Homo sapiens: one gene and its partners. The protein of the gene in region 5 interacts with the protein of the main gene of each other region in a biochemical or structural test. Each region holds a gene or a part of one and is shown on either strand. Other genes may lie near its edges. The genes, in order: SREBF2, HDAC6, PTPRB, CREBBP, MAPK3, PTPN7 and MAPT.

The links.
Region 1: of the proteins of MAPK3 (region 5) and SREBF2, one has a biochemical effect on the other in vitro, tested with the Homo sapiens proteins (2 studies listed by BioGRID).
Region 2: the proteins of MAPK3 (region 5) and HDAC6 form a complex in vitro, tested with the Homo sapiens proteins (2 studies listed by BioGRID, with this or other methods).
Region 3: of the proteins of MAPK3 (region 5) and PTPRB, one has a biochemical effect on the other in vitro, tested with the Homo sapiens proteins (2 studies listed by IntAct).
Region 4: of the proteins of MAPK3 (region 5) and CREBBP, one has a biochemical effect on the other in vitro, tested with the Homo sapiens proteins (2 studies listed by BioGRID).
Region 6: the proteins of MAPK3 (region 5) and PTPN7 form a complex in vitro, tested with the Homo sapiens proteins (3 studies listed by BioGRID, with this or other methods).
Region 7: of the proteins of MAPK3 (region 5) and MAPT, one has a biochemical effect on the other in vitro, tested with the Homo sapiens proteins (2 studies listed by BioGRID).

The regions. Positions count from the first base shown.
Region 1 is NC_000022.11:41,864,105-41,867,604, reverse strand, and holds part of SREBF2 (sterol regulatory element-binding protein 2), read right to left. Parts: intron 775-3,500; coding exon 325-774; intron 1-324.
Region 2 is NC_000023.11:48,822,272-48,825,476, reverse strand, and holds the end of HDAC6 (protein deacetylase HDAC6), read right to left. Parts: intron 2,858-3,205; coding exon 2,683-2,857; intron 2,566-2,682; coding exon 1,889-2,565; intron 1,806-1,888; coding exon 1,692-1,805; intron 1,556-1,691; coding exon 1,409-1,555; intron 1,312-1,408; coding exon 1,183-1,311; intron 934-1,182; coding exon 865-933; 3' UTR 501-864; downstream 1-500.
Region 3 is NC_000012.12:70,567,930-70,571,429, forward strand, and holds part of PTPRB (receptor-type tyrosine-protein phosphatase beta), read right to left. Parts: exon of another isoform or gene 3,361-3,500; coding exon 3,097-3,360; exon of another isoform or gene 2,010-3,096; coding exon 1,746-2,009; exon of another isoform or gene 1,569-1,745; intron 1-1,568. UniProt on the Homo sapiens protein: Plays an important role in blood vessel remodeling and angiogenesis. Not necessary for the initial formation of blood vessels, but is essential for their maintenance and remodeling. Can induce dephosphorylation of TEK/TIE2, CDH5/VE-cadherin and KDR/VEGFR-2.
Region 4 is NC_000016.10:3,734,214-3,737,713, forward strand, and holds part of CREBBP (CREB-binding protein), read right to left. Parts: intron 2,603-3,500; coding exon 2,437-2,602; intron 1,991-2,436; coding exon 1,823-1,990; intron 1-1,822. UniProt on the Homo sapiens protein: Acetylates histones, giving a specific tag for transcriptional activation. Mediates acetylation of histone H3 at 'Lys-18' and 'Lys-27' (H3K18ac and H3K27ac, respectively).
Region 5 is NC_000016.10:30,116,913-30,120,220, forward strand, and holds part of MAPK3 (mitogen-activated protein kinase 3), read right to left. Parts: intron 1,627-3,308; coding exon 1,437-1,626; intron 1,252-1,436; coding exon 1,135-1,251; intron 873-1,134; coding exon 758-872; intron 374-757; coding exon 242-373; intron 92-241; coding exon 1-91.
Region 6 is NC_000001.11:202,146,516-202,150,602, forward strand, and holds the end of PTPN7 (tyrosine-protein phosphatase non-receptor type 7), read right to left. Parts: intron 3,910-4,087; coding exon 3,796-3,909; intron 2,858-3,795; coding exon of another isoform or gene 2,720-2,857; intron 2,185-2,719; coding exon 2,091-2,184; 3' UTR 501-2,090; downstream 1-500. UniProt on the Homo sapiens protein: Protein phosphatase that acts preferentially on tyrosine-phosphorylated MAPK1. Plays a role in the regulation of T and B-lymphocyte development and signal transduction.
Region 7 is NC_000017.11:45,985,054-45,988,553, forward strand, and holds part of MAPT (microtubule-associated protein tau), read left to right. Parts: intron 1-1,986; coding exon 1,987-2,042; intron 2,043-3,500. UniProt on the Homo sapiens protein: Promotes microtubule assembly and stability, and might be involved in the establishment and maintenance of neuronal polarity.

The DNA of each region.
Region 1 (3,500 bases), on a different chromosome or scaffold from region 5:
TCAATCTCCTGACCTCGTGATCCGCCCGCCTTGGCCTCCCAAAGTGCTGGGATTACAGGCGTGAGCCACCGCGCCCGGCCGCTTGCTGGATTTTTTAACCAAGTATTTTTGAATTAGGCGCAATAGATATTAAGGTATTTGAAGCTGCAGAATGTGACATGCTCCTGTACCAGTTCTTATTGCCAGTTACCAGAACCTCATTCAGACAGGACCATATTGATATACCTGCCATTCCTGAAGACGACAGAAATATTTACAGTGTCTGCAAACTGGCACATAAACATTGGAACCAACCAACCACTACCATTCTAACTTCTGAATCACCTTGAAAGCTAGTAGCTGCATTCTGGTATATCAAAGGCTGCTGGATGATCCTCGTCTGCGGAGTGGTGCTGAATGTTGGCGTGATCATTACCGTCTGTTGTTGCAGCTGAGTTTGAGGTTGAGGCTGGGGCTGGGGGCGGGGCTGAAGAATAGGAGTTGCCCTGGGTGTGGTGGGAACTGAGGTGGGAGAAACCTTGACTTGCAGAGTTGGAGCCTGTGGGGAGGCCGCCGAGGGAGAGAAGGAAGGTAATGTGACCTGGGTGAATGACCGTTGCACTGAAGGGTCCACAGCTCCGCTGCTGCTGCCCCTGCCATTGCTGCTGCTGCTGCTGCTGCCACTGCTGCCGCTGCTGCTACCACTACCACCACTGCCAGGAAAGGAGCTACACAGCTGTTCTGAAAACAAGTCAGGGAACTCTCCCACTTGATTACTGACAAATTGCAGCATCTCTGTGAACAAAAGAAAAGGAGTAATTTTATTGCTATCCAAAAAGTGAACTTTCAAACTTGCTTAAGAAACTAAGGCATGAAAACTCAATGACTTTCCTAAGACCATGGCAGAAATGGGTCAGGAAACCCTTACCTCTTTCTTGTGGGGATCATCTGGGCCAAGATGGCTGCCCAAGGTCCCAGGACAACAGGACAGGACTTTATCTGTTTGATGTTCTTTTCCCTCCTCACACTCACCTCCAGGCCCTTTCTCTCATTTTCTTTCTTTTTTCTTTTTGAGACGGAGTCTTCCTCTATCGCCCACGCTGGATGGAGTGCAGTGGCGCGAACTTGTCTTACTTCAACCTCTGCCTCCTGGGTTCAAGCGATTCTCCCGCCTCAGCCTCCTGAGTAGCTGGGACTATAGGTGCACGGCACCATGCCCGGCTAATTTTTGTAATTTTAGTAGAGACAGGGTTTCACCATATTGATAGGTGGGTCTCGAACTCCTGACCTTAGGTGATCCACCCACCTCAGCCTCCCAAAGTGCTGGGATTACAGGTGTGAGCCACCGCACCCAGCCTCTCTCTTTTTCCTGATTGTTTTGATCATAAAAGGAACTACCTTTGTACTAGATGGGTGCTGTTCTGTCGAAGGTACCAAGGGTCCTTTTTTACAGCTGGAAACACTGAGGCAGCGAGTAGGGAGTCACTGTCCTAAGGCTGTGAGTATAGCGGTTTTGGCTTGTGAGGCCACCTCTAATCCTAGCACTGCAGACCCAAACTTGCTCTAACCTCTTTCCTCCTCACCACAGGGAGGCTCTAGGCCTCCTCTCCAAGCTGAGTAAAACCCTGGGCACTGTTGGTATTCTTGGAAACACTCAGGGACAACCAAGTTGATGGCCCCTAAGTCATGGAGCTTCAGGGATGCAAAGAATGGAAAAACCATATATGAAGTCCAGGAGAGGAAAGTAACTTGGCCAAGGTCACACAGCTTGTCAGGGTACAGCTAGGATTAGAACCAGTTCTCTGCCTCCCAGCTTTGTGTTCTTCTACCACAACACAGTGCAGGTATGTTGCCAGGCCAGGACACAGCAAGCCTGCCCCACCCTGAACTCCGTGCTTCCCAGGGCCCATGCTAGCCCTTGTCTGGTTGTGCCCCTTTTCTCTGGGCAAGGAGTCTTGGGTCCAAAGGGATTTGTCCACCTGGAGACCTCGCTTCCCTTTCTAGATCATGTTCCAAGTAGCTGGGACCCTTAAATTCCCAGCCCAAAGGGTCTCAAGCCTACTTCCAGGGCCTCTTCCCTGGTCAATCTTCCCAAAGGCTTTCCAAAACCCAACTTAACCCACAACTACCCCATCATCTCTCACGACTCCCTTCTTTTTCATATGACTGGTCCCTATAGAAGTCAGGAGCCTCAGCTTTGTCCCAGATAGTTTCAGACCTACAATTCTCTACATTGTCCATATTCTTTTCTCTTTTCTCTCTCCAATACGTTCCCAAGAAGCTACTGCTTGTTCTTGAACTATGGCCCCTCCTTTCCAAACCTTCAAGGCCATGTGATGCTCTGATTTAGACACCAAAACAACAAAAACCACCACACCACCACTATAAAAAAATAAAAGGAACCATCTCCATTCCCCCAAACCTCCACCAAGATGTCCTTCTCAGGTCTCTGATGCTGTGTGTGTGTGTGTGTGTGTGTTTTTTGGGGGATGTGGGGGCCTGGAGCCTGGGGTATATTTGTATATCTGACAAACAGAAAGCTGCTGAGACCGGTTGTGGTGGCTCATGCCTGTAATCCCAGTGCATTGTGAGGCCAAGGTGGGAGGGTCACTTGAGGTCAGGAGTTTGAGAACAGCCTGGGCAACACAGCGAGACTCTGTCTCTCTTTTTTTTGAGATAGGGTATTGCTCTGTCACCCAGGTTGGAGTGCAGTGTTGCAATTTCAGCTCACTGCAGCCTCCACCTCCCAGGCTCAAGCGATCCTTCCACATCAGCCTCCTGAGTAGCTGGGACCACAGGTGTGCGCCAACCATGCCCGGCTAATTTTTGTATTTTCTGTAGAGACGAGATTTCACCATGTTGCCCAGGCTGGTCTCAAACTCCTGAAAAGCAACCTCTCGGTTTGGCCTCCCAAAGTGCTGGGACTACAGGCATGAGCCAGGGCACCTAGCCAGATCCCTTCTCTGAACACAAAACAAACAAACAAAAAAACACAAAGATTTTTTGGGCCGGGCGCGGTGACTCACGCCTATAATCCCAGCACTTTGGGAGGCCAAGGCGTGCGGATCACAAGGTCAGGAGATCGAGACCATCCTGGCTAACACGGTGAAACCCCGTCTCTACTAAAAATACAAAAAATTAGCTGGGCGTGGTGGTGGGCGCCTGTAGTCCAAGCTACTCGGGAGGCTGAGTCAGGAGAATGGAGTGAACCCGGGAGGCAGAGCTTGCAGTGAGCAGAGATCGTGCCACTGCACTCCAGCCTGGGCAACAGAGCGAGACTCAGTCTCAAAAAAAAAAAAAAATATATATATATATACATATATATATATATTTTGATATTTTGTGTGTGTGTGTGTGTGTGTGTATATATATATATATATATATATATATATATATATATATGCTTGCAGAAGGATAGGAAAAATAAATCATAATTAAATGTAAATAGGCCAGGGGTGGTGGCTTATGCTTGTAATCCCAGCACTTTGGGAGGCCAAGGCAGGTGGATCACCTGAAGTCAG
Region 2 (3,205 bases), on a different chromosome or scaffold from region 5:
CCAACTCCCTTGAGCTGCCAAAGCAATTCTCACCACGTGGGAGAAATTCAGCTCTCAGACTGTCCTCCAATTTCCCACCTGTGGTCAATGGCAGGCACCCCTTCTGCCAAGAAGCTACCATGACCACCACATTCAAGTTAAACCTGGACCTCCCACCATCCCCAGTCAGGCCAATGAGACAGTGGGGAAACAGGCCTGGTAAGGATACTTCCTGCTAGTTTTCTTGCCTTCTCAGCCTAGGGTGTGGGTGTGGCTGGGACTGGCTGTGAGGCTCCTATTTATAAGGCAAGCACCCATTTTCTCATGGATTCTACCATTTTATATCCCGTGGAGCCAGTCAAGATGGCTGCTCTATTTTCAGTTAGTTTTTTGGGGGCAATGGATGGGCAGGGGATTGACCTGACAGAGACCCACTCCCTCATTCCTTCATTACTCATCGGCTCTGCTGGCCAGGGATGTGGGGTTCTCCACCTGCTCAAAGTCAAAAAGCTTTCTCCAGGTTTTTTAACAGCTTGTACTTTATTACATATGCAACCTTGCCATGCCTGCCAGTTAACTCCCCTCCCGCCAATGTTATCCTCATGATATCAGCTCCCTCTTGGGGCCACTGAGCTGCCCCCCTTTCCTTCTGGGCTGGAGTAGTGGTGCCCCTCAAGCAGGCAATGGGCAGGGGGAGATCCACAATTAATCGTCGCAGTTCTCTTAAAAGTATTAACACTTAAATAAGCACTCTTGGGGAGTTGCAAAGGATATTCAGGATGGGATGCAGTGGGAGGCTACCCCTCATCCAAGGTACAGGCTGGAATGAGCTACAGCTGGTCTATCGTGGGCCTCAGAAGGTGAAGAGGGACCGTATTCTGGGGCTTAGTGTGGGTGGGGCATATCCTCCCCAAACTTGTTCTGGTGGGCGATGTTCTTCACATCTAGGAGAGCCTGAGGAGGAGGCAAGAATAGGGCAGGTGAGAGAGAGTGAGGACCCCTCTACCTCGGCTGCAGGGCTGCCCCCACTCCAGCCCTCAACCACTCTGTCTTCTGGACTATCCCACAGCCCCCGCCCCATGCAAAATAATCACATGAGGCAGCCATGCAGAGGGGCCTGTGGTCTCCCTTTACCCAATCACAGAAGGGGTGTGTGTGTGGGGGGTGAGTGTGCACGTGTCGAAGGGTCTACCCAGGGCCCACCTGGTGGTGGACATAGGCCTGACAGTAGTAACACCAGGCTGACAGGTCGATGTAGCTGAGGACCAGCGGGTGTCCAGAATTTCCATGGTGTTGGAGCATGTGGCCATTGATGTAACGACCACAGTAGACCTGAGGTTGGGGGTGTGAGTGTCAGGTGGGGGTCAGCATCCCCCTGCAGTTTGCTCCCGGGCCAACCTCCGCCCCATCCCCTTCCTCTGCTCCATACCTGATAGCAAGAGAGACACACCCAATTCTCTTGGATTGTTCCACAGTCCCCACAAGGTTGGGTCACGTCTAGGCCTGCTGCAGGTATGGGGCATACTGCCACCAAATGGGGACACCAGGGCAGTGGTGTCACAGCATAAAATATGGCCTGGAGTGGGTGGGTGAAACTAGGTAAGCTGAAGACCCCATCTCCCCATTATATGTTTATTCATCACATGCTCCTACCTGGAGACACAAATTGGCAAGAGAAGGAAGCCACAGTCCCAGCCTCTCCCTGAGCTCACCTGATCAGTGAGGCCCCTAGATCCCTGCATCAGCATCGAATCAGCCATGTCCTGACCTCCAGCTGCCTCTCCTAGTAGGTTCTCCTCTCCTGGGGCCTGAGATTCTGAGGCCCCCTGGACACGCAGAAGTAAGAGATGTATCAGAGAAGCCCGATTCTTGCCCCTTCTTGCCCCTACCTGGGTGTGGTGAGCCTTACCTGAGATTCGCTGCCTAGCTCCAAGGTCCTGAGACTCCCAATCAGTGTACTGGGAGATATCTGGGGTGTAGTTCCCTGCACAGGTGAGGTTGGGGGGGTCTGGTGGTCTGTGCTCGAGGCTAGAGGAGTTTGGATCAGCTCGGTGCCCCCTGGAGCCTCCTCTGACGTAGTCTGGTCCAGTGTGGCTCCCTCCATGGCTGCCTCCGAGGTGGTCTGGGCCAGTGTAGCTCCTCCTACAGCCTCCTCTGAGGTAGTCTGGCCCAGCGTGGCTCCCCCAACAGCATCCTCTGAGGTGGTCTGGTCCAGAATGGCTCCTCCCACAGTCTCCTCTGAGGTGGTCTGGTCCGGAGTGGCTCCCCCGACAGCCTCCTCTGAGGTGGTCTGGCCCAGCATGGCTCCCCCAATGGCTGCCTCAGAAATGGTCTGGGCCAGAGTGGCTCCCCCTGTGGCTGCCTCTGAGGGCTGGTCCTGAGTGAGGGCCACCACAGCTGTCTCTGAGTTAGTCTGGCCTGGAGTGGACTCTTCCCCAAATGATGCCGAGGTGACTTTCCCCATGCCTGCTTCCAGAACCTTCTTTTCTCGTGTGGTCATCCGCTCAGCTAACCTAGGTTTGGCTGGTTGGGGTGCCTTCTTGGTGACCAACTTAGAACTGGAGGGTCCTTCTCTGTCTTCTACCTCTGGAACCAGGGAGGGAGATCCTTGAGTGTGGGTACTGTCACCCTTCCTGCCTCTGATCTCTGCCCCTCAGCCCCCTCCTTCCCTGGGTTCCCCCCATCACCCCCAAATCCACTCACTCATGACCCGTAAGCTGCGCCAGTATCTGCGATGGACTTGGATGGTCTCAGTGATTGAGGCCAGGGCCCCTGATAGTGGGGGCCGTGGCAGGGTCAGCAGGGGTGGTGGGTCTCCAAGGAGGGAGCGAGTGCAGGCAGCCATGGACTCTGAGATGGATGTCAGGTTATAGCCACCCTTTGTTAAGGAAAAGGGGAGGGAAAGGTATGGTGGGGGTTCATTGGGGAATTTGGAGGACAACATGTCCTGCCTCCCCAATCCTCCCTACTGAGCCCTGCAAGTCTGGAGAGGGAGGGGGAGTACTGAGAACAAGTGAACAGAACCCACACCTTTAAGATAGGCAGCACCCACTGTGTAAGGTGGTTGTTGTGGGGAGTAAATTGTGATGTAAAGTGCAAGATAACAATACTGATAAAAGCATTAGTAACAGCTGACATTTATTGTTTGCTGTGTGCCAGACCCGATTTTAAGTACTTCATGCATATTAACTCAATCCTCACAACCACAGGCGCTCAATCTATACAG
Region 3 (3,500 bases), on a different chromosome or scaffold from region 5:
ATCCACTCACCTCAGCTTCCCAAAATGTGGGATTACAGGCATGAGCCACCGTGCCCGGCCTTTATTCTAGTATACTAAAAAAGGTGTAGGTTCCCAAATGTGCCATCCTTTCTCTCACCTCCAGGGCTTTGTTTTCTCTGTTGGAACGAAGACAACTTACACTTCACCTGGATGACTTCTTAGTCTTTCTTTAAATATTACTTCCTCCTGAAAGCCTTCCCTGACTCTTCTTGTTTGCTCCTCTAACATCTCATAACCACTTTTTTCTTAGCACGTACCATGTTTTACTGTAATTGCCTTTTTACTTTTCTATCTCCTTCACTAGATTATAAGGTTCTTGAGGTCAGGGGCTTTGCCTTGCTACTGAATGCCCACTTTCTTTTTTTGGAGACAGAGTCTCACTCTGTCACCAAGCTGGAGTGCAGTGGCATGATCTCAGCTCACTGCAAGCTCCGCCTCCTGGGTTCATGCCATTCTCCTGCCTCAGCCTCCCGAGTAGCTGGGACTACAGGCGTCTGCCATCACACCCAGCTAATTTTTTGTATTTTTAGTAGAGACGGGGTTTCACCATGTTAGCCAGGATGGTCTCAATCTCCTGACCTTGTGATCCACCCACCTTGGCCTCCCAAAGTGCTGGGATTACAGGCGTGAGCTACCGCGCCTGGCCCGAATGCCCACTTCTAACACAGGATTTGTCATAGGGTTAAAGATATGCAGATATAGATATAAATATAGATATGAAATAGAGGCATAGTAGGGCATGGTATAGAAGCCCCAGACCCCACAACTAAATAAGTGGTCATGAGAATGGGAGACATCTAAGAAGTATTGTGTCACAGTGGAGAGGGCACGAGGTTTGGGGCCAGACAGACCTAGACTTGAATTATAGCTTTAGGTCTTGTTATATACGTATCCTTGATACTGTTTTACAAGCTTTCTGAACTGTTCTTTCCTCATCTGTAAGAGAACTATAGTATGGCTAGAGATCTTTCAAAAATAATACATGAATAGTGATATTGATATAAACAGATATATTATTCATACATTTGATACTTGTTTTTTTAGCTCTACCAGGTAAAGTAGATGGCACAGATGTGTACTCTTTCTTAAAAGGTAGAACTTTTGAAAAATGCATAATTATGGAAGTCTCCTTATTAAAATTTATTTATTTATTTATTTACTTATTTATTGGGACAGGGTCTCACTCCGGTTGCCCAGGCTGGAGTGCAGTGGCACGATCACGACTCACTGCAGCCTTGACCTCCCGGGCTCAGGTGATTCTTCCACCTCAGCCTTCCAAGCAGCTGGGACTACAGGTGTGCACCACCACGCCTGGCTAATTTTTTGTATTTTTAGTAGAAATGGGGTTTAGCTATGTTGCCCAGGCTAGTCTCGAACTCCTGAACTCAAGCAATCTACCTGCCTTGGCCTTCCAGGGTGCTGGGATTACAGGCGTGAGCTACTGTGCCCAGCCTGCTTGTTAAAATTTAAAATTTTATTATCCTTTAGCAAGTATAAAAATGTGTTCAAATGATTTGGTTTCTGATTCCCTTTCATTTGTTTTGCAGATCTCTATTAAGAGAAAAATACAAAGAATAAATGAGTAAGGCTCTTGAAACCATTGAATTGTACAAACTTTGGTGGTTTTAAATCTGGATTTGTGAATAGCTGAGCCCGTTCACTGTCCCATTTTGGAGAACCATGAGGCATTCTACAATCTAGCCCTTCTCCAGGTGGATGCTTACCTGTCCGCCCAACCACATTTATCTGATTCTTCAGGGACCCGCTGACTGAGGCAATCATGATCTGGTACTGCTCCCCGGCCTCCAGTCTGTGGAACGTGTGCTCAAAGACGTGCTTGGGAATAGTCTGAGAGTCAACCTTTTGACTGTGCCTGAATGCCGACACCGTGTAGGAATCAACGTCTCCCCCACCAGGAGTCCAGTTCACCGTCAGGCTATCTGTTGCTCCATTGGGAGAAATGTGAATATTTTTGACAGCACTAGGAACTAAAACAGAAAATAAATTTAAAAGTCATCACTTAGAGAATGAACTGTTGAAATTTTCAAACAAAGTTTTGAATGCTTCTGATGTTTTGGCACCCACTGAGAGAACTCACATGAAAAAGAAAGTAACAATTTGCCACTTTTCTCTGATTTTTCTGTGTGAACTAAAGTTGATGGGGGAAAGCTTAGGGGGAAGTCAAAGCCGGTGAGTGGAAATGAGGAATGCTAATTATATAGCGAGGGGCTAGTTAGGGTGTCTTGGTCCAAGTTTTGGTTTTCTCACTCACTAGCTGTGGGACTACAGGCAAATTACTTGACCTCTGTAAGTTTTAGTTTCTTCATTAGGAAAAATGGCAGTGATGATAATACTAACCAGCCCATAGAGTTGTGAAGATTGATTCTTTTTTAATTTAATTTTATTTTATTTTTGAGGTAGGGTCTCTGTCTGTTGTCCAGGCTGGAGTGCAATGGCATGATTATGGCTCACTGCATCCTATACCTCCTGGGCTCAAGTGATTCTCCCACCTCAGCCTCCCCAGTAGCTGGGACTACAGGCACGTAACACCGTGCCCGGCTAATTTTTTTGTATTTTTTGTAGAGACAGGGTTTTGTCATGTTGCCCAGGCTGTGCTTGAACTCCTGGGCTCAAGCTATCCTCCTGCCTTGGCTTCCAAAGCATTGTGAAGACTGAACAAGATGTAGACATAAAATGCTTTGCTGTGGGTCTGGTTCATGGTGAACTGTCAGTACATGTTAACTACTATGGCAACACTCCTAAAAGAGTTCTAAAGAAGTGATACCCAAGTAACACTTAATTCTTAATCTGTGTGCCTCAGAAGCACCAGCTGATCACATCAGTTCATTGCTATTTCTCTGAAAGCACCCTCCAACCCCGCCACTCTCTGCTGACATCATACTTTATTTTCATTCATCCAGGTTGGACAACATCATTGTCACTATCAACATGACTTTGTCCCTTCTTGCTGTCTCCCTTTTATCCCTCCAAATGCTCAATCGAAATACCTGAACTACCCGAAAGTTAAATGCACCACTGCATCTATTCAGGTTCAAGAACAGTATTTCACATTACCTGTGAAGCCCTCAATGAAGGCTGACTGCTGTACATCCCCGCTAATCGTCAAGACAAGAATTTTGTATTGGCGGCCTGGTGTTAGGGAAGTAAATCGATACTCGGTTGCGGTATTTACAAGGTGAAAAGGAGGAAATACTTTCATGTCATTGAAGAGCAGCTGGATCTCATATTGGTCGACATCCCCATTAGCTCCTGACCAAGTCACATGCAAGTCCTCAGTGCTCCTGTTGCGCAATGTTAGATCCTTAACAGGCTCTGGAACTAGGGAGAAAAATGAGAAGACATTTCAGGAAAGGAACTGATCAGAGTTTACCTACATAATAATTTATGAATCACATTCAAGGAACTGGCAACATCTCCCTTCCCCAAATAAACCACTAGCACTACTTCATGCATAATTA
Region 4 (3,500 bases), about 26 Mb from region 5:
GAGCTAATAGCAAAGCAGTGCTCCACCCCACGCACCAGCCCTCACTAAGGCTGACCCCCAGAGCGAGCTCCTGGGGTGTTGCTGACGAAGGCATGTCCCTGCCCATTGTTGTCCATGAACCAAACACACAAGGGACAGCAGGTCTACATGCCGACACCTCAGCATCCCGCCTCCTAACACATGCATGTCCCCGGTGCACAGGGAAGGCTGCCCCAGCAGGAGCCCCTATCAGGCCTGTCTTCTGGACAACCCCACTGCTGCCATGCCACAGGCAGGTGCCCCCTCCTGGGGTGGAACTCAGCTGCGCAAAGCCTGTCTCGGACGCGGTAACCTCCCGTGTCACCCTTAGGAGATGGAACTCAAGCATTAACTCACCAGACACCAGTGAGACCAGCTACACTCCAGCGGGAGCAAGTCCGAAGACAACAGGCCAGGAGCTCTGCTTAGGAGCCACCTAGGGCGTAAACCCACGCCACCCCCTGCCCGCGCCTCCTCTGTCCTGCGAATGACACTCTGGGGCGCCGTCCAGCAGGTGGCTGCCTCTCAACCACCTGTGCAGTGAGCACGAGTGTGTGTGGCGGAAGCGGCCCAGGCCCCACGCTCCGCCTACAGCCCATCCGGCACCCACCTCACAGACGTGCTCTCATATGGGACAGGCACCAGAGTGGCAGTATGTCCCCAGCCGGCTCCCGGCTGCCTCACCCATGGCAGCAGCCCACGCAAGAGCCACCTCCATTCACCGCTTTTCCTCACTGGTCACAATCGCCTGTCCCAAGTTCTGGGGCTGCAGCCTTCAACGTTCGTCATCGCTCTCCCTGCACCTACAGCTACAGCCCACACCCACGCCACCATCATCTCTTCCCCAGACAGCCGCACAAACCCGCACACAGCGCGCCTCCTCCCACCGCCTGGCGGGTCCTCTTCCAGCACCTTCCTGTGGTGGGCGGGTCTGGCCCACACGCCACCTCCCCAAGGCTCCTTCCCCTTCAGAGCTCTGCCACGCTCAGAGCACACCATGCTTGGGTCTGGGTTCTTTTTGTTTCACATCCTACCAGGACACAGCCACTCCCTTGGGGGCGGAGATGGGGTTTTGTTTGTTCTGAAACGGAGTCTCGCACTGTCTCCTGGGCTGGAGTGCAACGGCGCAATCTAGGCTCACTGCAACCTCCGCCTCCCGGGTTCAAGCGATTCTCCTGCCTCAACCTCCCTCGTAGCTGGGATTACAGGTGCCCCCTCCCACAACCGGCTAAATTTTTGTATTTTTAGTAGAGATGGGGTTTCACTGTGTTAGCCAGGCTGGTCTCCCTTTCCTGACCTTGTGATCCGCCTGCCTCGGCCTCCCAAAGTGCGGGGTTACAGGTGTGAGCCACCGCGCCTGGCCAGGGATGGGGTTTTGTTTGGCTCAGTCTGCACTGCCTGGCACTCAGGGGCAGCGCCAAGGAGAGAGGGCAGCAGGGCATGAGCATCATGTGCAGAGTGGCCACCAAACACGGAATAAGGCCTGGCAACCCTGTGCCTCCTCGACTCACTTTTTACATCAGCGGGTTGTGTCCTGACTGCCCCATGTCCCATTTTCTGTCTTCCTCTCTTCCCTCTCCGAGTCTAAGTGGACCCCCAGCTCCCCAGAGCATCCACTGTGCAGAGAGTGCAGAGCCCACACTGCTGCCCACCAACGCCCTGTGCTGCAGGTGGTGTCGACGTGCATGTGTGAACGGAGACACCACCACAGGAAGGACCTAACAGTCGACACGCGCCTCCCAGCCTGCCACCCTGCAGCTCCAGCGGGACACGTGGGCAATGGAGCTCAGAGAAGGGTCTGTACCTCAGTGGTTTCACTGGCTGCAGTGCTCTCTTCCTTTTTCCTCTCCTCTTCTTCTTGTTCTAGTTCCTTAATGCTCTCTTCTAACACATTGGGCCAGAAATCACCTTCAAAATAGGGCAGTTCCTTGGCACTGGTGAGCCTGTCTTCAGTTGCTTGTTTGAAAATATCCTGAGTGGGCAAAGCACAACAGTGAGATGAGGGCCATGCACGCGTGCCCCCCACCATGGTGCGACAGACCCCCACGCAAGCGTGCCCCTCACCATGGTGTGGCAGAGTCCCATGCATGTGTGCCCCCCCACCACAGTGCAGCAGACCCCCACACATGTGCACCCCCCACCACAGTGCTGGAGCCCCTATGTGTGCAACAGTGATGCACAGGCCCCAATGCCCACTGATGGAAACAGCTCCAACTGTGCTGCTCTCAGACGGCCAGGGGAAAGCCTCAATCAGCTGAAGAAAATGCTTCTAAGTTCTCACTTTAGGCTTTTATTTTTCTGCTTTCTAATCCTCATAAGTGAAGGTAATTAACAAGTATGCGAATGCAAGAAAAAGGCACACAAATATCCTCCCCTCAGTTGTGACAAAAGCCACCACCTTCCTTCAGCGCCGGGTACCTTGTAGTCATGGATGATCCGCTCTGCAAACGCCTTGTCCAGCATCTTTTTGTACCACTCCTGCAGTCGTTTTGGCTTGGGTATTTTTTGATCAGGTGGGTGGCAATGGAAGATGTAATCATCTCCTTCACTTGGAGGACAGGCCCAGATGTGCCCTGTCACATACCTGCAGGACCCACGCACACACGTCAGATGAACGTGCCAGTGAAATCGGCCCTGCCTTTAAGGAGTTATAGCAGAGGAGCAAGGACTAAAGCCAGGACAGAAGTAACCAGAGAGAGAGAATGAATGCCCACAAAGCTGGGTGTGGTGGGGGCAAGGCTCGAACTTTATCCTGAGCAAATGCAAGCCTGCAAATTAGCCCTGCAACACTTCTCCCTTGGGGTGCACACACAGGGCAGGGCCGAGGCTGCAAAAGAAACCTGAGGCCTCATTAAAGAACCAGGGAATATGATGGCTCATCAAGGCAATGCCATCCCCTTCCTCCTGTGCACTGTAAAGGCAGTTCGGTTGACTATTTTTCTCCAAGGGTCAATGTCAACATAAACCTCATTCATTCTGTTCAAGACACTTTGATCAAATGCCCCTATCCTTTTCAAGTTTCAGAAGGGAATGGGGCAGGTCTAGAGTACAGAAACCAAGGGCTAGAGAAGGAAGCCAGACCCAAGACAGCATACGCTGCAGGGTTCCGTTTACACAAAGGATTCACAAAAGACAAATTCAGAGAGACAAAGTAGATTAGTGGTCGCCTGGGGCAGGGAAGGTTTAACAGCAAGGGGCAGGAGGAACATTTTTTTTCTTTTTTCTTTTTTTTTTTTTGCGGGCGGGGGGCAGAGTTTCATTGTTGTTGCCCAGGGTGGAGTGCAATGGCATGATCTCGACTCAGCGCATCCTCTGTCTCCCTGGTTCGAGTGGCTCTCCTGCCCCCACCTCCTGAGGAGCTGGGATTACGCTAGGCACCCGCCACCACGCCTGGCTCATTTTTTGTATTTTTAGTACAGACAGGGTTTCACCATGTTGGTCAGGCTGGTCTTGAACTCCTGATCTCAGGTGATCCACCTGCC
Region 5 (3,308 bases):
TACTGCTCCAGGTAGGGGTGAGCCAGCGCTTCCTCCACTGTGATCCGTTTATTGGGGTTAAAGGTTAACATCCGGTCCAGCAGGTCAAGGGCTATGGAAGGGCAGGAGTCAGGGGTCACAGGGAAGACTGGAGGAGCTCCGAGAAGCATTGCTTTGCCTGTCTCCTCCAGCGGCTGCTGGGCTCACACACCCTCCACGACACCCAAGGTTTATCCCACACCCACCCTCATGTCTCTCGAACCTTTGGAGTCTGACTTGGGGAAAAGCTTGGCCCAAGCCACCTTGGTCTTGGAGGGCAGAGACTGTAGGTAGTTTCGGGCCTTCATGTTGATGATACAATTCAGGTCCTCCTGGGATGGGGAGCCCAGGATGCCTGTGGATAAGGAGGTGACTTGGTAAATGATCACCTCTTTCTTTCTGGGAACAGAATAGGCAACAAGGCAAGAACAAGACCCCCCAGCCCAGCAACCCATGCCAATCCCTCAGTCACCTCCTAGTCATTAGCATGGTGGTGCAGAGCAAGGGGGCTGGGTTCAGGCAGACCGAGGCTCAAATCCTAGGTCTGGTGCCTCCTCAGGTGTGGGACTTAGCCTTGCTTTTCCCATCTATCCAATGGGGATAATATCTATACCTCATTGAGATACCATGAGATGCTGGAGGCACCCCACACGTGGTGGTATCCCTGACTTGGACTCTCGAGAAATCTCACCTCGGAAAAGCTAATCATCCCCAACTCAGCCAGCCGGGCCTCCCTCACCCAGAATGTGGTTGAGCTGATCCAGGTAGTGCTTGCCAGGGAAGATGGGCCGGTTAGAGAGCATCTCAGCCAGAATGCAGCCCACAGACCAGATGTCGATGGACTTGGTATAGCCCTGGGGGAGAGGAGGAAGTGGTGAGCTCCTGGGCCAGCCTCAACAGGGTCCTGTTGTCTGCGCCAGGCCACCACCTCCAAGTTAGATCCAACACCAGGCAGAAGGCAGAGGCCTGGAGGGCTCAATGCTCAGCTTCCTTGCAGAGCCCAAGGCCCAGAGGGTAGAATTCCTGTGTCATGGGGGTCAGTGTCTGGCTCAGAGGTAGCTCCAGGGCTTCCTGGGAACTGGTCCGTTCCTTTCAGGAGTGGGCAGCCCCTCCTACCTTGGAGTTCAGCATGATCTCTGGGGCCCGGTACCAGCGCGTAGCCACATACTCCGTCAGGAAGCCGGTGTGGTCATGCTCAGGATCGGCAATCCGGGCCAGGCCGAAATCACAAATCTGGAATCAGACCTAGCTGCTAAGCTCGGCGCTCAAGGCCTCTGCAGCCTAAGCAGTCACGCCCCCTTGTCTTTGCCTCCACTGTTCCCTTTGCTTGCAATGTTCTCCTGCCCAAGGCTTCTTCTACTGGTCACTGGAAGCCCCAGACCCTGGGGGAGGAGGGGACAGGTGCCCAACCCTCTGACCTTAAGGTCGCAGGTGGTGTTGATGAGCAGGTTGGAGGGCTTTAGATCTCGGTGGAGCACGTTGGCGGAGTGGATGTACTTGAGGCCCCGCAGGATCTGGTAGAGGAAGTAGCAGATATGGTCATTGCTCAGCTGCTGGCTTTTCAGCAACTTGTACAGGTCAGTCTCCATCAGGTCCTGCACAATGTAGCTGAGGATGGTTCCGCAGACCCCCCCAGGCAGGGGGCAGTGGGAGGCACTTGGTTAAGGAAAACAGGCTCTGAAGGCGAGGCTGCACACCTCCTCCAGCCAGGGCCCCTGGGACTCAATAGATCTGCCAACCTGCACCACCAGCTGGGGAAGCTGCTGCCATTACCCAGCGGCAGGGCTCTGAGCCTCTGTTGCATCACAGTTGCTGATCCTGAGCAAGGGGCTTCATTTCTGAGGCCTCAGTTTCCCTACCGGGGAAACGGGGATAATAATAAACTGTGGGAGGCAGGAGAACTTCACAGTTAAGAGCAGCAACTTGGGCCAGGAGTGGTGGCTCACACCTGTAATCCCAGCACTTTGGGAGGCTGAGGCGGGAGGACTGCTTGAGGCCAGGAGTTTGAGACCACCAGCCTGGGCAACATGGCAAAACCCTGTCTCTACTAAAAATAGCAAAATTAACTGGGCACGGCGGCATGTGCCTGTAATCCCAGCTACTCAGGAGGCTGCAGCACGAGAATCACTTGAACCCAGGAGGCAGATGTTGCAGTGAGCCAAGATTGTGTCACTGCACTGCAGCCCGGATGACAGAGTGAGACTCTGTCTCAAAAATAAATAAATTAAAAAAAAAAAAAAACCTACAAAAAGAGCAGCAACTCTGGAGTTAACCCATGGATGTCTGAAATCTCCTCTCTACTACTCACTGGCTTTAGGATCTCAACCTGTCTGTGCCTCAACTTTCTCATCTGGTATGTAGGGGAAATAATGTTTTTTTGTTTGTTTGTTTGTTTTCTTTTTGTGGAGATGGGCTCTTGCTCTGTTGCCCAGGCAGGTCTTGAACTCATGGGTTCAAGTGTTCCTTCCACCTCGGCCTCCCAAAGTGCTGGAAATTACAGGTGCAAGCCATGAAATAATGGTTCTTTTGAGGGTGGTTGTGAAGACTAGATGAGATGGCGCATGTAAAGCTGTCAGCCCAGTGCTTGGCAAGTTGTGAGTGCTAGGCAAACATGAACTATTATTACTAATATGAATGCCTGAGTCACATGGCTGTTGAGGGAGTTAAATGAGATAATGTATGAACACCATCTGGCATGCAATAAATGTTTGCTTAAAAATAAATGCCTGCCTTATGGGAATGGTTTGTGCAAGAAAAATGAGGAGACACTCCCAACAGCACACTCCCACTCAAAGGAGAGTGCTTGGCCATACCTCAGAAGATGGAGGAGTAAAATGTCTTTTTCTATTTGAAGATACAAAAAAGCTTATGCGTAAATAAATAAATAAATCCACAAATGCTGTTTGGCTTGTCTCTAGAAAAATAAGTCAGGGCTGTCTTTTAGAATCTGCCTTGAGACCAGGCATGGTGGCTCATGCCTGTAATCCCAGCTCTTCAGGAGGCCAAGGTGGGTTGATGACCTGAGGTCAGGAGTTTGACGCCAGCCTGGTGAACAGGGCGAAACCCCGCATCTACTGAAAATACAAAAATTAGCCGGGCGTGGTGGCAGGCGCCTGTAGTCCCAGCTACTTGGAAGGCTGAGGCAGGAGAATAGCTTGAACCTGGGAGGTGGAGGTTGCCGTGAGCTGAGATTGAGCCACTGCACTCTAGCCTGGGCAACAGAGGGAGACTCCATCTAAAAACAAACAAACAAAAAACAAAGAAAACAAGAATCAGCCTTGAAAGGGTCT
Region 6 (4,087 bases), on a different chromosome or scaffold from region 5:
GAGTGCAGTGGCATGATAGCTCACTGCACCCTCCACCTCCAGGGTTCAAACAATTCTTCTGCCTCAGCCTCCCGAATAGCTGACTACAGGTGTGTGCTACCACGTCCGGCTAATTTTTTGTATTTTTAGTAGAGACAGCGTTTCACTGTGTTAGCTGGATCTCCTGACCTCGTGATCCGCCTGCCTCGGCCTCCCAAAGTGCTGGGATTACAGGCATGAGCCACCACGCCAGGCCAGCAATACATTTCTGTTGTTTAGAAGCCACATGGTTTACGGTAGTGTGAATTGTTACAGCTGCCTGGGTAGGCTATGAGGGTCCACCCTGTCTCACTTCCTAAATTGACTTTGGTTTCACCTTACTTTATGTCCTTGGAAGTGCTAGAAAAGTGCATATCCCAAGGGCAAAGATTTGCAGCCTGCCTGTCCCTGGTCTGCAGTCTTTCTCTCTTGCTACAAAGAGGCCCCAGAGGGCCAAGAAGAAGATGGAAAGAAGGAATGAGTCAGTCATCCAAGAAGTCTTTATTTTCCCACTTGGTTACTGTTCTGGAGCTTGTACCCTCTGAGCTCTGAGATGGGGTTGGGGGGACAGTGCCAGGGAGGGCCTGTGGGGCTGTGCAGTTGCTTCCCTCTGGGCTGGCTCTGAGCCCAGGGCAGGATCAGGCACTTGAGAGCCCCCCACCGAGCCTCATTGGCATAGACAGTCGTGCCTCTCACAGGGCTCAGGGGAGGTGGAGGTGTGGGCAAGTCCATCCCCAAGGCTGTAAGGAAGGAGCAGCTCCTCCATAAGGCCAAGCAGAAGCATTAGGGAAATCATCCTCAGTTTTAGCACTGCGTGTTCTTCAGGAGAGAAGTCCTGAGTGAGGAGGCCCAGCTGTTCTCCAGATCCAACTCCTCGGGGGTTTCCACAGAGAGCTGGTATCAAGGCAGCTGTCAGGGGCGGCGTGCCTGGTGATGCGGCATCTTACCTTCATCCCCATCTCAGAATGGGCAGCCAGTCTCAGATTCAAGGAGGAGGAATCCTGAGGTGTGGCGTTCAGTCCTGAGGTAGACCTGAGGTCCCCTGGAAATTGTGTTGATGCTGAGATGGATGAGGGGTGCTCATTCTCTCAGGTAGACAGTGAGGAGTCCTGGTTCAGCCGAGCCTCCATGTCTGCATGGATGGTTATGACCCTGATTGTTTTTGGAAACAGCCAAGCTCTCTAGGTGTACTCAGCAAATGCAAGGTATAGTGGGTCCTGCATACCCAGGGTATTATTTGAGCCATGGAAGCAAAACAGAGACTGCTTAGCCTCCCTAAGAGTAGTTGGTGGGAGTGGCCAGCAACCATGGAGGCAGGAGCAGCTCCTCTTTGCCTCTGAGTAGTCCCCACATGTTCCCTCTTCCAGAGATTTCAACTGCCAGGCCTGGTCACCTCTGTAGCCTACTCTTATGACACATGGGTGGAGGCAAGGGTAACCAGAGTCCTTGTTCTTTCTTTTGATTGGGGTCATCCAGCCCTTCCGATGTGTGGTCAGGGAGCAGAGTCACTGATAGGATGTTGAGACTTGGAGATCAGGACCAGACTTTTCCCCATTCTTGCATCTGGCCTGTGCTTGGGCAGGACCTCGGGTGAAGGATGATCTTGGAATCACCCTTTTGTCAGCCCCAGGAAGGAGTGGCTGGAGTGGCTTCTAGAAACTTCTCTCATTACTTTTCCCTCATGGCAGCTAAGCACTTATGTTCATGTTATAGAACAGGAAACTGAAGCTCACAAAGAGTGTCTCAGAGAACACCAGGACACCTGGGCTTCTTTCTTTGTCTGTCATAAATGCCAGCTCCTGTCTTTAAGTTCAGAGAGACATTGGAGGTTCCCCTTACTGTCCATCTGGGGCCAACAGAGGAAGCAGAGGAGTGGCCAGTGTTGAAGACCTGGAATCCGGCCCCTTGTCCTTACTGCTGCTGCTTCCTGTGACTGCAAGCACCACTAAGGAGGCACTCCTTCCCCACACCAACCCAAGGGGTACCCCCAGATCACTCGGCCCACTTTCCCCAGACCCACCTTCCCAGGCTTGAGGGAGGTAGGCACCTGGGCCACCGGAGGGTGGCAGGGGTCAGGGGCTGGGTTCCTCAGGCAGCTGGCCTGCATACAGGGCCAAAGTGTGGTGCAGGAACTGGTACTGCTCTGCCGTCTGGATCATCCCCCCTCTGCAAGGAGAAACACACAGACCATGAGTGAAGGAGGGTCAGGGTGCTGGCTGAATGGCTCCAGTCAAACATCCCTGTGGTCCTACTGGGAAAGTCCTGACTTTCTCAAAGAACATGCCAACTCCTTTGCCTATATTCATCTTTTCACTTTTTTTTTTTTTTTTTTTTTTTTGTGAGACAGAGTCTCACTCTGATAGCCAGGCTGGAGAGCAGTGGTATGATCTCAGCTCACTGCAACCTCTGCCTCCCAGGTTCAAGTGATTCTCCTGCCTCAATCTCCTGAGTAGCTAGGACTACAAGTGCCTGCCACCTTGCCCAGCTAATTTTTGTATTTTTAGTAGAAACAGGGTTTCACCATGTTGCCAGGGTGGTCTTGAACTCCTGACCTCAAGTGATTGGCCCATCTTGGCCTCCCAAACTGCTTGGATTGCAGACATGAGCCACCATGCCCCACCACCTATATTCATCTTTTCTACTTTCTACTCCTCATTGCTGCCCCTCAGATCTGCTGTGAGAGAAGTCCTCTGCCCCTTACACGTGCTGAGGGGTGATGCCCCATGTTGACACTTGGTCTTCCTTGATCCACTCAGCTCCTGGGACAAAACCAGATCTCTGAAGCCTTGGGTCGGGCCAGGAATACTCCTGAGCCTCAAGTTTCCTTCTTTCTAATAATCTTAAAAAGTAAAAATAATGATTCCATACATTTGTATAGTAGTTTCCATTTCCAAAACATTTTCATATAAGTTAACTCATTTCTTACAACAGTTTTCTGGGGGAAGGAGCCATTATCTCTGTCTAGATAAAGAAGAAGTGGGGGCTGGGCACAGTGGCTTAAGCCTGTAATCCCAGCACTTTGCAAAGCCAAGTGGGCATTGTTGAGCCCAGGAGTTCGAGACTAGTCTGGGCAACATAGTGAGACCCCCATCTCTATTATTAAAAAAAGAAGAAAGAAAAAAAAAGAAATGGGGGCTCAGAGAAATCTAGTGACATCTCAGTGAGACAGATGTCAGAATCTGAACACCGGCTCTGCCTCCACCCAGTGATCTTCTTTGCACTACTTGTTGCTGCCTCATATCATGTTTAATTCCAGGCATCCAAGCCAACATTCCAGACAGATATTCTTTTTTTTGTTTTTTTTTTTTTTTTTTTTTGAGTCAGAGTCTTGCTCTGTCACCCAGGCTGCAGTGCGATGGCACAATCTCGGCTCACTGCAATCTCCACCTCCTGGGTTCAAGCAATTGTCCTGCCTCAGCCTCCTGAGTAGCTGGGATCACAGGGGCCCGCACCAGGCCTGGCTAATTTTTGTATTTTTAGTAGAGACAGGGTTTACACCATGTTGGCCAGGCTGGTCTCGAACTCCTGGGCTCAGGTGATCCACCCGCCTCAGCCTCCCAAAGTGCTGGGATTACAGGTGTGAGCCACCGCACCCGGCCATCCAGATAGATATTTTTTCCTGGTTGTTAGTTGTAAAATAAACAGCTCTAAGCAGAAAGGGTTTCTTCCTTTCTTGCAGGAGTGCTTGATGGTGATGGGCCTAGCAGAACTCTGGGGCCCAGAGGCACTGATGCCATCCGTTAACGTTGTTGGCCTTGTTTACACCCACAGACCCACCTGTCTAGCCGCAGTTGGCACACAATACCCAGAATGTCCACTTCTCCTCGGGCTTTCAGCTGTTGACAGCCAATTCGCGTGGCGATGAAGCAGCCCGTCCGGCCAATCCCTGCACTGGAGATAGCCAGGGAGGGGACAGGGAGGTCATGGGAGACCAGGGAATATGAGAGCCAGGCCCCAAACTATGGAGAAAGAAATGGGACCTGCAGGTGCTATATTTTGGGGATAGGGCTCTGGAGATGGAGGCAGGTAGCAGTACTCTGCTTTCCAGTCCCCTTGGGGGCCCTGCTGG
Region 7 (3,500 bases), on a different chromosome or scaffold from region 5:
AGCACTTTGGGAGGCCAAGGCAGGTGGATCATTTGAGGTTAGGAGTTCGAGACCAGCCTGGCCAACATGGTGAGACCCTGTCTCTACTAAAATTACAAAAAATTAGCTGGGCGTGGTGGCGGGCACCTGTAGTCCCAGCTACTGGGGAGGCTGAAGCAGGATAAGTGCTTGAACCCAGGAGGCAGAGGTTACAGTGAGCCAAGATCACACCACTGTACCCTAAGCCTGGGCGACAGAGTGAGACTCTGTCTCAAAAAATAAAATAAAATAAAGTTAAGAGAGAAAAAAATATATCCTATATCCTTTGTTAAATTCCAAAACAGTAGGGGACAAATAACTGACTTGACAGGTTACTACAATATTTCCTGAAATGATGTTTTCTTGAATACTGGCCTACTAGAGGTTCATAGGTGTGTTTGGATTAAAAAAGAGTTCCATGGCCCAGTGACTGGGGGAAAAAAATAAAAGACTAAAGTAAGTTAAACAGGCTTTTCTGCTGCAGGACTTGTCAGAGCCTTTAATGTACTAATGGCCATTGTGACCCTCTGAGAAGGTCACAGAGTGGGTTTCCCAAACTTACTTGATTCTACCTGCTAACATTTCCTGGAGGAAGTTTGGGAAATGCCGATTTAGCAGATTCTTTTGTTGTGCCGTGGATGGTGCTGGTTGATGTGGGCAAAACAAAGAACACGTGAGTCAGATCCGCCTGGGGCTCTTACTAAAGTGCAGGTTCCCAGGTGCCACTTTAGGCTTACAGACCCAGTTGTGGGGTAAGCCTGGGAGTCTTTTAGCAGGTGATTCTGCCACATAGTATAGTTGGAAAACCTCTGGGCATACTCATTGCTGGTCCCTCTAGAAATCCAGGTGACAATAGCCAATGAGAAGCTCCAAGAGACCCAGTTGTCCATGGGGTAGAGGGAATGTGATATTGAAACCAAAGAAGAAAATCTATGATCAGTTTTCAGCAGTGACTGTCAAGAGAAGGAGAAGGGTGAGTTAGCGCTGATGCTGGCTGACAGGTCAGCGGGTTGGTTTCACCAAGGAGTGTGATGAAGGCTGATGTTGTCTGTGGGAATGTATGATGGTAACTGGTTTGTAGCTAATTTGGGGAAGCAGTGAGAATTCGTGCCCTTTGAAGACCAGTAAGTGGCAAGAAACCCACCAGGCCTGGCTCAGGGCTGGGCTGGGCTTGGCTCGTCTCAGAGCAGCTGGGGCTGGTGGCCAAAGCCACCATTAGTGAGGGGCAGGCCCTGGGGGTACAACCAGCAACTAGGGGACAAAGACAACCCTGCCAGCCTCTCCTATTCTGGAGGCGTGTGACCAGAAATGGAGATGGGTTGGTCAGCATAAGATGGCCAGGAAGGTGGAAATCAGGACTGCTGGCAATCTAGCCACATGGGCAGGGGAGCCGGGTGGTTCCAGGCAGTTTCCAAGGCCAAGAGGGTGAGCAGGCACCTCACAGGGAATCAGGGCCAAGCCTGGCTGCAGTGTGGAGACAATGCACCCACCCCCATCCTTGGATCTTGCAGGAGGCTGGGTCCTCACTGAGCTACCAACATCCATGGCCCTGAGGCTTTTAAAACACCCATCCATGGAGTGGGGCTGGTCCCAGTGGGGTGAGGCTGACCCTGGCAGAAACAGGGCAGGAGCCTGTGGGTTAGGGAGACTGCACCTTCCTTAGATAGCCTCCATGCCATCATGTCCCCGTGACAGTTTCTGCTGCGTCCCCTCTGCATGGTCCCACCCTCGGCCAGCCTGCTGCCCCCTCTTGCCAGGTTGCGCTAATCAGTGACCCCAGTGTGCTGTGTTGATACTAACAATGCGAGGCCTAGCAGATTCAAGGGAAAAGAGAACCAACTGGGTTTCCACCAGACCCAACTAAACAAACATGGACCTATCCCAGAGAAATCCAGCTTCACCACAGCTGGCTTTCTGTGAACAGTGAAAATGGAGTGTGACAAGCATTCTTATTTTATATTTTATCAGCTCGCATGGTCAGTAAAAGCAAAGACGGGACTGGAAGCGATGACAAAAAAGCCAAGGTAAGCTGACGATGCCACGGAGCTCTGCAGCTGGTCAAGTTTACAGAGAAGCTGTGCTTTATGTCTGATTCATTCTCATATATAATGTGGGGAGTATTTGTCACTAAAGTACAGCTGTCATTTAAAGTGCTTTGTATTTTGGGGCAGGCTTTTAAAAAGTCCAGCATTTATTAGTTTTGATACTTACCCCAGGGAAGAGCAGTTGGCAGGTTCATGAAGTCATGCTCCTAATTCCAGCTTTCTTAGTGTACTTTCAGTGAGACCCTGACAGTAAATGAAGGTGTGTTTGAAAACCAAACCCAGGACAGTAAATGAAGGTGTGTTTGAAAACCAGCCCTAGGACAGTAAATGAAGCCATCTTCTCACTGCATAAACTGCACCCAGATCTTCGCCCATCCTTCTCAGTATTTCACTTCACCCATTGTTTACTGTCTCAATGACTGGGGAAATGTCTGGGGAAATGCTCCCGTAATTGCACAGTGGCGTTTTTCCTGGAAAATCCCACCATGGCTCTAGATAAGACCTATTTTTCTTAAAGGTATCTAAAATTTCCAGCATAAATTCTGTCTGAAACACCTGAATTTTAATCAGTACTGGAGCCCGGAGGGCATCTCCAGTTGCCACATAGCTCTGAGCATTCAGTGGTGTGTTGAGGGCTGCTCCCGGAAGTGCCTGCAGAGTCAGGGCTCCCCAGCCTCATCTAGTGAGGCAGTGGAAGGGCCTGTGGGGATTTGGAGAGCTGGCCTGGGTCTCTGAAGTGATAGTGACAGCTGCTTGTCAATCACGGTGCACATTTAGTGCTGGGGGCAGGGGGCAGGGAATACCAGCCTCATGCATGCATGCATTCATTTGTTCCTTCCTTCATTCATTCATTCAGTACACATGGGTACAACATCCCTGCCCTGGAGTTGCCCAGAGTCTAGGGAGGGGAAAGATCTATTACCCTGGGCCTCGGCCAGCTGGGGAGTGCTGCTGGTGGAGAGGGGCCGTGTGCAGCGAGGGAAGGAGGAGTCGTCAATACCCCCACCCCAGCTTTGCTTTCTTGTCATCAGCCCCAGGGCCCCAGCCTGTGTCCCTCCTCTCCCATTGCTACTTCATCTCCTGGGTCCTCCTTACCAAGCCTGACCACACAGAGGGCCTTGGCCGCTTCCATGGGGAATTGGAAAGCAATAAGATAGCATCCCCTAGAAGCCCAGTGAAGTCTGGGACAGGACCCTTCTCTGAGCTCTGACTTGCTCTTGGAAACACTTCGAGGCTTAGCCTCCCCACTTTGTTTCCCGAGAGTGTGACCTGTTCCCCTCCAAACACCCCCTTCTCCTCCAGGGCCATGCCCACCCGTCAAAATCCCCCACGGGCAGGACGAACTGTGGGTGTCAGTCACCATCTATCCTGCATCCTGGTTCCAGGGCCCCCCCCAGCCCCGCCTCCATAGGGACAGGCGTGCAGACACCCGTCCCT